Regions from separate parts of the Homo sapiens genome. Here regions 1 and 3 are each reported to be linked to region 2. Evidence: microRNA targets listed by miRTarBase, many of them from high-throughput screens and not tested one by one. Region 2 holds a microRNA gene; each other region holds the end of a gene's coding sequence.
The links. Region 2 holds the annotated microRNA hsa-miR-3692-3p (GUUCCACACUGACACUGCAGAAGU, at 2,120-2,143, shown strand). A microRNA usually pairs through its seed, bases 2 to 8, with sites in the 3' UTR of a target mRNA and lowers its output. Matches are read on the target gene's strand: a 7mer-m8 pairs with bases 2 to 8, a 7mer-A1 pairs with bases 2 to 7 and ends in A, and an 8mer does both.

Region 1: the mRNA of MLXIPL is a reported target of hsa-miR-3692-3p. Seed matches in the 3' UTR shown: 7mer-A1 at 2,320-2,326.
Region 3: miRTarBase lists CHD4 as a target of hsa-miR-3692-3p. Seed matches in the 3' UTR shown: 7mer-A1 at 975-981.

What each region holds. Positions count from the first base shown.
Region 1 is chr7:73,591,174-73,594,423 of GRCh38, forward strand. MLXIPL (MLX interacting protein like) reads right to left here. Exons shown (of 17, transcript NM_032951.3): 16 at 3,101-3,230; 17 at 2,029-2,810. The coding sequence ends at 2,692. Among named protein-coding and RNA genes, the nearest start is that of TBL2, 14 kb to the left of the region's middle.
Region 2 is chr6:157,527,056-157,530,305 of GRCh38, forward strand. It overlaps MIR3692 (microRNA 3692), which reads left to right and starts at 2,077; the gene lies at 2,077-2,145. All of the region lies in intron 1 of ZDHHC14 (zDHHC palmitoyltransferase 14), which reads left to right.
Region 3 is chr12:6,567,905-6,571,148 of GRCh38, reverse strand. CHD4 (chromodomain helicase DNA binding protein 4) reads left to right here. Exons shown (of 40, transcript NM_001273.5): 39 at 117-280; 40 at 456-1,067. The coding sequence ends at 473. NOP2 (NOP2 nucleolar protein) reads left to right here and starts at 2,858. Exons shown (of 16, transcript NM_001258308.2): 1 at 2,858-2,942; 2 at 3,227-3,244. The coding sequence starts at 3,231. It overlaps CHD4-AS1 (CHD4 antisense RNA 1), which reads right to left and starts at 2,778. Exons shown (of 3, transcript NR_199067.1): 1 at 1,619-2,778. RefSeq lists enhancers at 552-846, 2,514-2,563, 2,387-3,008.

The DNA.
Region 1 (3,250 bases), not on the chromosome of region 2:
CTGAAGGATCAGTTTTTTTATTTTTTGTTTTTATGTTTTTTTGAGATGAAGTCTCACTCTGTCACCCAGGCTGGAGTGGAGTAGCGCAATCTCTGCTCACTGCAACCTCCACCTCCTGGGTTCAAGGGATTCTCCTGCCTCAGCCTCCCGAGTAGCTGGGTTACAGGCACCTGCCACCATGCCCGGCTAATTTTTTTTGTATTTTTAGTAGAGACGGGATTTCACCAAGTTGGCCAGGCTGGTCCGGAACTCCTGACCTCAGGTGATCTACCCGCCTCGGCCTCCCAAAGTGTTGGGTGGCGTGAGCAACCGCACAGGCCGCTGTCAGTTTTTTCTAAGACATCCCAACTAAGTGGCCATCCACTCTCTGCATGCATACCTCTCATAGCGGGGAGGTCACTACCCTCCATACCTGCCCCGCCAAGGGAGCACATTCTCCTTCTGGGTGGTTCCAGTGGATGCCCTGTCGGTTCCACTCCTTGGTCCCAGCTCTGCCTTCTTCCAACTCTGAAGGTAGCGAGCCTCTCCAAACTGTCTCCTGGCCATGGAGGGAGGAGCTCCAGGAAGCAAATCTATCACCTCTCACCTGGATGACTGCAACTGTCCTCTAACTGGTCTCCCTGCATCCACCTAGTCTCAACTCAGCACCCAGGGGATTCCTGTAAAAAAGTTACATCTGGCCAGACGCCATGGCTCATGCCTGTAATCCTGGCACTTTGGGAGGCCAAGGCGGGAGCATTGCTTGAACCCAAAAGTTCAAGACCAGCCTGAGTAGCTGGGATTACAGGCGTGTGTCAGCACATGTGGCTAATTTTTGTATTTTTAGTAAAGACCGGGTTTTGCCATATTAGCCAGGCTGGTCTCGAACTCCTGACCTTGTGATCCGCCTGCCTCGGCCTCCCAAAGTGCTGGGATTACAGGCGTGAGCCACCACACCCGGCTGCTGACTCTATTCTTATAAGAAAAATTTTTTTGTCTGGGCGCGGCAGCCTCACACCTGTAATCCCAGCACTTTGGGAGGCTGAGGAGGGCAGATCACAAGGTCGGGAGTTCAAGACCAGCCTGACCAACATGGTGAAACCCCGTCTCTACTAAAAATACAAAAATTAGCTGGGCATGGTGGTGCGCACCTGTAATCCCTGCTACTCAGGAGGCTGAGGCAGGAGAATCGCTTGAACCCGGGAGGCGAAGGTTGCAGTGAGCCGAGATTGCGCCACTGCACTCCAGCCTGGGCAACAGAGCGAGACTCTGTCTCAAAAAAAAAAAAATTTTTTTTTTTAAAGTTACATCTGGCAGGGCGCGGTGGCTCACGCCTGTAATCCCAGCACTTTGGGAGGCTGAGGTGGGTGGATCACAATCGTGGTCAGGAGATCGAGACCATCCTGGCTAACACGGTGAAACCCCGTCTCTACTAAAAATACAAAAAAAAAAAAAATCAGCTGGACGTGGTGGCGGGTGCCTGTAGTCCCAGCTACTTGGGAGGCTGAAGCAGGAGAATGGCATGAACCCAGGAGGCAGAGCTTGCAGTGAGCCGAGATCGGGCCACTGCACTCCAGCCTGGGTGACAGTGCGAGACTCCGTCTCAAAAAAAAAAAGTTACATCCGATTTTCTTTTATTTATTTTTCTCTTTTTTATTACTGAGATGAGGTCTATGATCCTCCCGCCTTGGCCTCCCAAAGTGCTGGGATTACTGGTGTGAGCCACTGTGCCCAGCCTTTTTTGTTGTTGTTATTTGAGACAGGGTCTCACTCTGTTGCCCACTCTACAGTGCAGTGGTGCTATCATAGCTCACTGCAGCCTCGAACTCCTGGGCTCAAGCGATCCTCCTGCCTCAGCCTCCTGAGTAGCTGGGACTACAGGCGCTCGCCACCACTACATCTGATCTTGTCCCACCTCCACTCAAAGCCCTCCAGCTGCTTCCAGCTCAGAGTAAATGCCCAGGCCCTCTGCAAAGCCACTTCCCACTGCCAACAGGCTCTCTCTCCATCCCAGTGTGAGACACTGACCAGCACACCAACAAACCAGCAGACAGTTTTTGCTTTTATTGGTCAAGAATTCTTTACAAAACCCACACACACACATCCACACACACACACACACATGATGCCTGCCCTGCTGTGGTCACTCTGGCCCTGGTGTCTCCTGGGATCAGGCCCTCCTGGCCTCTCCCAGGGGAAACCATCCTGCAGCCCCTCTGGGTCAGCAGTGAAGGAGCAGAGAGAGGGAACCTCCTTTTCTGCTTCTCTGCTCAGGAACAGAGGTCTGTGCCCCACCTGTCGGGGAGCAAGTGGAGGTGACAGAGAAACAGCATCCTCCTCTTTCCACCGTTGAGCCCCCGGAGTTGCCAGCCTAGGCCCCCAATGTCACAGCTGCCAAGGCCTGGGGGTCATCTGCTGATTGAACCTTCCCCATCCCCATTTTGCAGATTGAAACACAGCGGTCCAAAGACAGCGGACGAGTCACCCAAGGTCACGGTGCTGGAGCACAGTGGCAGAGCAGGGACGGGGACTCTGCTCTTCTTGACCTCCAGGAGGTGGCAAGTGTGAAACCTGGACCCTGCTCCACCCCCCAGGGAAGGGCAGAGCCAGGGCCTGGGGCAGGAAGGGAGTGCCCAGAGATGATCCCTGGAGCCCGTGCCCAGGGAAAGCAGCCCCCAGGGCAGCTGAGTGAGCAGCAGGGTCTGGCCAGGACTATAAAGGTTTGCCAAGGGTGCCCTCTGTGACTGCCCGTGTGGCTTGCTCAGGGATGCGGCCCGGGTCGGTCAGGATACTGGTAGATGTGCCCAGCTGGCGTAGGGAGTTCAGGACAGCTGGGTGGGAGACAGAGAGAGAGAGACAGACACTTCCTGGGGTCAGGGCCCTACCCTTGGATGTGGAACCAAAGGGATAGGGGGAGGTATTAGTTGGCAAGACTGTCACCCCCTCCTAGAACCTCTGTCTACAGGCGTCTGGTGGCCAGAGGACCATCTGGGGGATGCGGGGTGGCCACAACCCTAGGCTGTGTTGATGGCAAGCTGGATGTGGGATCTAAGCAGGGTGGAATGCTCCCTCCACCCCCGAGGCTGGGTCCCTCTAGCAGGCAGGGAGATGGCTCACGTACTTGGCCGGAGAGCGGGCAGAGAGCAGTACTGGTCCAGCCAGGCCAGTGAGGTCTGGCGGAGGGTGTGCACACTTGCCGTGGACACCATCCCGTTGAAGGACTCAAACAGAGGCCGGATGAGGATGCTGAACTGGGCCCAGGTCAAGGAGC
Region 2 (3,250 bases):
GTTGGGGTCCAGGACCCCTTTGAGAATCTATGGATCCTCCCACACAATGTGAAACCATGGCCGTAGGTAAGGCCAACGTTCTCTTCTATCGCTGCAAGCTGGTGACCCTCAGCTGAGCCACCCTGCAACTGGGTGCCTGAAAGCAGATTACACCAGCCGGGGGGCCATGGCTGCATCAGTGCCCCCATCTCCTACCAGACTTGGGCACCTCCCATCGACTCCAGGAGCTCCCCAGCTCCTGTTTCTACTCTGAAGGAGAGGCTGCATTCTCAGCTCATGTGGCGAACAGGAATAGTTGATATTCCTTTGCTCAACTGACCTGTTTTCCTATTTTCCCACCCAGATTTTCCATTCAAAAATCTCTTCAAAAAAGTGCTTTGCAGAGCTTGCTCTTATAGTCAGACAATATTGAAGTCCTTTCATCTTGCACCATGCAGCCTCAGAGTCTCCACCCAGGGGAGAGTAAGAGTCAAAACCTCAACTGATGGAAACTTCTGGTAGAAAAAGCCTTCCAGAACTGCCCAGAGTAAGCACTACAGTCACGAGGTTTTGCCACAGAGCGTATAGGCTCAGCTAGAGCATTTTCAAGCTGTTTTTCTGTGGCCTTGCTTGGTGGACCTCTGCTTTTTGACCTCAAGTTTCACAAGTGCTTTAAACATGAAGCAGTGTTTTCTTGGCAGCCATGTAACGGTCTCTCAGGAAGTTGTTTCTGGAAATGGAAAGACTGTTCTCAGAACTTGACAGTTCTTTAGGGCTCCAGTTATTCTGAATGTTGAAGCCAACTGGACAATGTATGACGCAAGCCTAAGAGGGATAGGGATGTAGCTGTAGGAGGGGCTTTCTGATCCTTCTCTCTCTCCATTGTATCACTCTGCAGTTTCCCTGTTGATTCTCCAACTTTGCCATCTGCTTGGCAAAATTCAAGAAAGGTGGCACTTATTTAATTGATTGTAGCTTTCATGGCAGTCACACCTTCCAAGCCTTCCATCAGGCCAGCCAGGCATGATTTCCTTTGTTTCAGTCCCTCTTGGTGTTCTCTAATTAAATATGCTTTTTCCAGATGTTTCTCCACCGTATTCTTTAAGGTTGTTTCCACCATTTTTCCCTAGATCTAATGTCCATTATTTTGCCTTTTGCCCTTCTCTTTTTAGTAATCAGTTAATAATCGTGTTTGCCATGGGGAAGTCCTCAGGAATACTTCTGTTGTATTTCAAAATGAGCTGAACAGTTTTTTTGTTGTTGTTGTTTTTTAATCTCAGAAGTGTGTGGCTTAAAAGAAAAGTAAAGAAATGATATGAAAGTTTAACCATAGATGAATATACTTGGAAAAGCACAAGTAGATGAAGACTGGGGATGGGAGTGGGCATTAATCAATTAATTTAAAAAGCACGATAGGGTGGGCGCAGTGGCTCACACCTGTAATCCCAGCACTTTGGGAGGCTGAGGCGGGCAGATCACGAGGTCAGGAGATCGAGACCATCCTGGCTAACATGGTGAAACCCTGTCTCTACTAAAAATACAAAGAAATTAGCCAGGCGTGGTGGCAGGTGCCTGTAGTCCCAGCTACTCGGGAGGTTGAGGCAGGAGAATGGCAAAAACCCGGGAGGCGGAGCTTGTAGTGAGCCGAGGTCGCACCACTGCACTCCAGACTGGGCGACAGAGCAAGACTTCATCTCAAAAAAATAAAATAAAATAAAATAAAATAATTAAAAAGCACAATTAGATGAAGACTGGGGGTGAGAGTGGGCATTAATTAATTAATTAAAAAAGCACAATTAGATGAAGACTGGGGGTGGGAGTGGGCATTAATTAATTAATTTAAAAAGCACAATTAGATGAAGACTGGGGGTGGGAGTGGGCATTAATTAATTAATTATAAAAGCATAATTAGATGAAGACTGGGGGTGGGAGTGGGCATTAATTCCTCAACAGCACATGGTATTTTTCAGGTTTCTCCCAATGAGTTCAAAGAGTTTCATTGAAAGTATATCCTTGTAGTTGCTAGTGTCTAGGAGACACACTCAGACTTCCAGTTTTACTCAGCACCTACCACCTGTACTCTTCTGAGGTTCTTTGCCATTCCTGCTGGTCAGGAGTGGATACTGGAGCAATAGATACAGTTCCACACTGACACTGCAGAAGTGGAGATCTCTGGAGTCTCTGCAACCCCACCCTCTCTTCACAGGGAGCAAGTTACTTCTTGAGTATAACCTGGGAATTTTAGAAAGTTTATCTTTTTTCATAAATGAAAGTTTATGTTTTAGCATTGTACTGGTCAGAATCCTCCAGTATTTAAGCAAAACTAACCAGTACGGTCTTTGTTTAGTATACATGTATTTTGCAATAACAGGAGCAGTCATCACCATTTAGTGTCAAGCTTGATTGACAGGGCCCCTGGGAATCTGTGGTTTCTGTTGTGTAGAAACCACAGAGCTTGTTATTCTTCAACTGGAATTGGGAAGCGGAGCCCAAGAGAAATGTTCTTGACCTTCAGTCACTAAGGCGTTACTACCAGACTGCTGGCAATCCATCAATGAGCGACTTTGTCACCCAAGACTCCGAGCTTGTCTTCTCCCCAGACTGGACAAGGCACCTTCACGCAGAATAGTTTCAGGTTTCACTGTGTTCTTAATTACATTTAATGAGGATCATTGAGATCCTTATAAAAAGGTGAAAACAGGTACAGCTGTTATTGTATTCCACTAAGAAAATGTGTAGAGTGCAAAACAGAAGTGTAGGCCTCATTGTGGTACAATTGAGAGACCATGCCTTGGGCCCATGGGCTTTGATGGCGGCCACATCTGATTGACTTCTGGTTATGAAACTTATTAGCTAAACCAGGCTCAAAGTAATGAACCTCTTATAAGTCTTATCAGTCAAATTAATGAACCTTAGTTTCCTCATCTGTGAGATGGTCTCAGTAATACCAATGTCATAGACAATTAGCTGTGTACATTTCTGTAGACATTATATGAAATGTTATATGTGAAACTGCCTGCAATATAGGTACTCAATCAAAAAAATGTGAATTTTCATTTGCTCCCTGCAGTCTTACTATCTGGCTGCCTGTTACTTTGAAAACCATGTGTATGAAACAGTAACAGGCTACCTAAAAAGAAAAAAAGAAAAAAGAAAATGATGTGGGACCACATCTGTGTGTCTAGCAGGCATGGACCTTCCCTCTGGATCTGTTTGTTCTGACCTTGTCTTCTAATTGAGCTGGATAATTACATGGTAGGAACTCTCCCCA
Region 3 (3,244 bases), not on the chromosome of region 2:
AGACAATACATCACAGTTACTTGGTCACTGAGAAGTGATGGGGGGCTGGTCCACTAGGGTAGAGGGAGCTCAGTCTGGGCCACCACAGCTCACCACCTCTTTTTCTCCCTATGCAGTTCTGAAACAGCTGGAAGAACTGCTGAGTGACATGAAAGCTGATGTGACTCGACTCCCAGCTACCATTGCCCGAATTCCCCCAGTTGCTGTGAGGTTACAGATGTCAGAGCGTAACATTCTCAGCCGCCTGGCAAACCGGGCACCCGAACCTACCCCACAGCAGGTAGGACCATTTTCTTCTTGACACCACCTCTTCCTGCAGAACCATTCTGGAGCTTGTAACTTTGCTGTATGTCCCTAGCTTTACATACTGGGTGGGTGGCCTATCAGTGAATTCCCTTGAGATTGGGTGGATTCCTATCATCTGGAATTCTGACTCCTCGGGTCTCCTTCTCTAGGTAGCCCAGCAGCAGTGAAGATGCAGACTGATACCACCTCCACCGCTGAGCAGTGACCTTCCTCACTTTCTCTTGTCCCAGCTTCTCCCCTGGGGGCCTGAGAGACCCTCACCTTCCTTCTGCCCATCTTCCATGTTGTAAAGGAACAGCCCCAGTGCACTGGGGGAGGGGAGGGAGTGAGGGGCAGTGGTGCCCTTCCTGCAGAAGAGACATGCAGCAGTAGCGCTGGCGCCATCTGCAGGAGCTGGCGGGCTGGCCTTCTGGACCCTGGCTTCTCCCCACTGTAACGCCTGTTACACACAAACTGTTGTGGGTTCCTGCCAGGCTTGAAGAAAATGATCTGAATTTTTTCCTCCTTTTGGTTTTATTTTGTTGGTTTATTTTGTGTTTTCTTTTCTCCTTTTTGGGGGGTATTCAGAGTGGGCTGGGCCCCTGGGCGAGACACAGCTACCTCTGTTGGCATCTTTTTAATACCAGGAACCCAGCGGCTCTAGCCACTGAGCGGCTAAATGAAATAAAGTGGAAAAAAAAAAAAAGGAAAAAACCAAAAGCATAAAAAACCACAGCAAATTTCTTGATGAAAATTGAAAATAAAAGTTTCCTTGTATTTTAGTGCTCTGGTTCAGTGTGGGTGTAGGTGCAGGTGGATGAGTGTGTGCGGCAGGAGCCTGGCACCTGTATAGTTGAAAATTAAGGGCTACGTGGTGTCCTGATACCCCACTGAGTAACTGGGTTCTGTGTGTGGGTGCAGTATGTGCCTTGCCAACGTTGACTTCCACCTGTGGAAAATGAGAGGCTGCAAAACTGCGGGCACCGCCGCTTAATGGCTCTGTGACCTTGAGCAAGTTGTTTAACTTTGGTGGGATGCAGATATCTCATGTATACCTCATACGGTTGTCAAGTTAAACCAGTGAAGTACATGGAACGGTTTTAACACCTAACCACTACCTTAATGTTAGTTTCTAGGAAGGCTGAGGGGGGTTTTCTTGCTAAGTTGTGCAAAATTGGGATGCAATTTGTGGAAGAACACAGCCTCAATCCCACACCCCCGGAGGCCCGACCTAACGTCCTCCAACCTTGAAACCCTTGTAGTTCACCCCTTCTCATGTCCCAGACCAGGTCAGCCTTGCAACCCGTTGTTTCCCAACTAATTGTAGACCCACCTGAAAGCGAGTTCCGGCGAAGAGGCCCCCTGCGAATGAGGTGCAGTGCAGCACCTTAATTGAGGGGCTGAGCAGGGGTCAGCATCAAGGAAGGTGCTGGGAGGGCGGGGCACGGTGGCTCACAGCCTGTAATCTCAGCACAAAGGTGGGGGCAGGAGGATCGCTTAAGCCCAGGAGTTCTAGACCAGCCCTGGCAATATAGTGAGACGCCACCCCCTACAACCCGTCTCTATAAAAAGATTTTTAAAAAAGGGGCAAAGAGGAGGAGGTAAGTGGCATGGAATTCCACGGTTTTTTTTGTTTGTTTGTTTTGAGATGGAGTCTCGCTTTGTTGCCAGGCTGGAGTACAGTGGCGCGATCTCAGCTCACTGCAACCTCCCCCTCCCGGGTTCAAGCGATTCTCCTGCCTCAGCCTCCCGAGTAGCTGGGACTACACGCGTGCGCCAGCCACCATGCCCAACTAATTTTTGTATTTTTAATAGAGACAAGGTTGGCCAAGATGGTCTCGGATTTCTTGACCTCGTGATCCGCCCGCCTCGACCTCCCAAAGTGCTGGGATTACAGGCGTGAGCCACCGAGCCCGGCTGGTTTTTTTGTTTTTTTTTTTTGAGGTGGAGTTTCGCTCTTGGTGAGGCTTAAGTGGCACGATCTCGGCTTACTGCAACCTCCGCCTCCCGGGCTCAAGCAATTCTGCCTCAGCCTCTCGAGTAGCTGGGATTATAGGCGCCCGCCACCACGCCCGGCTAATTTTGTATTTTTAGTAGAAGCAGGGTTTCACCATATTGGCCAGGCTGGTCTCGAACTCCTGACCTCAAGTGATCCACCCACCTCAGCCTCCCAAAGTGCTGGGATTACAGGCGTGAGCCACTGCGCCCAGCCTGGAATTCCGTGATCTTGACGCTGGACTAGGGCAGTGGATGCGAGGGAGAGGGCTCCAATGTCGGGCCCTGGTTCGAGGAGAAGGTGCGGCTTTCACCCAACAGAAACCGGCCGTGAGGCTAAAAGCCAACTCCATGAGGGAAGGTCGGTCAAGCTCAATGGTTTCGTCACATTGCTCCCTCCACCCGCCGCGGGTGTAAGCTGCGCGTCTCCTTCGAATTGCCCCCTACTCGCCGCCGCCGGCTCCGCTGGCGTTCCCAGGGCGAGCGTAAGTTCCGGGTGCGGCGGCCGACTAGGCGCAACAGGAAGAGGCGGGGCCGCGAGGCTAGCGCTACCCGTGCGCCTGCGTGGAACGATTCTGTGGCGAGTGCCGGCCGAAAGCTAGGTCCGGATTGCACGTGGAGGGCCGCCCGAAGGGCACTCTCGGACATTAACCCGCATTCTGGTGGGTCTAGAGGAAATTGGGGGACGAAGAGTGGCAGCACTGACCTGGTCTGGGACGTGGGGAGAAGGGTGCGCTACCTGGGTTTCAGGTGGGAGGGCGTTCGGTCGGGCCTCCAGGGGGATAGCGGGGGTGCTTGAGTCGCGGGTGCTGAGTCGGGAGTGCTGAGTGAGTTGCGGGTGCTGAGTTGAGGCTGTGCCCTTTCCCACTATAATACGCCAAGCGTGCGTTCTGCCGTTCCCTCCGACACGCGCGACGCCACCTTCTCCCATTTCTGCCTGCCACAGTACCATGGGGCGCAAGTT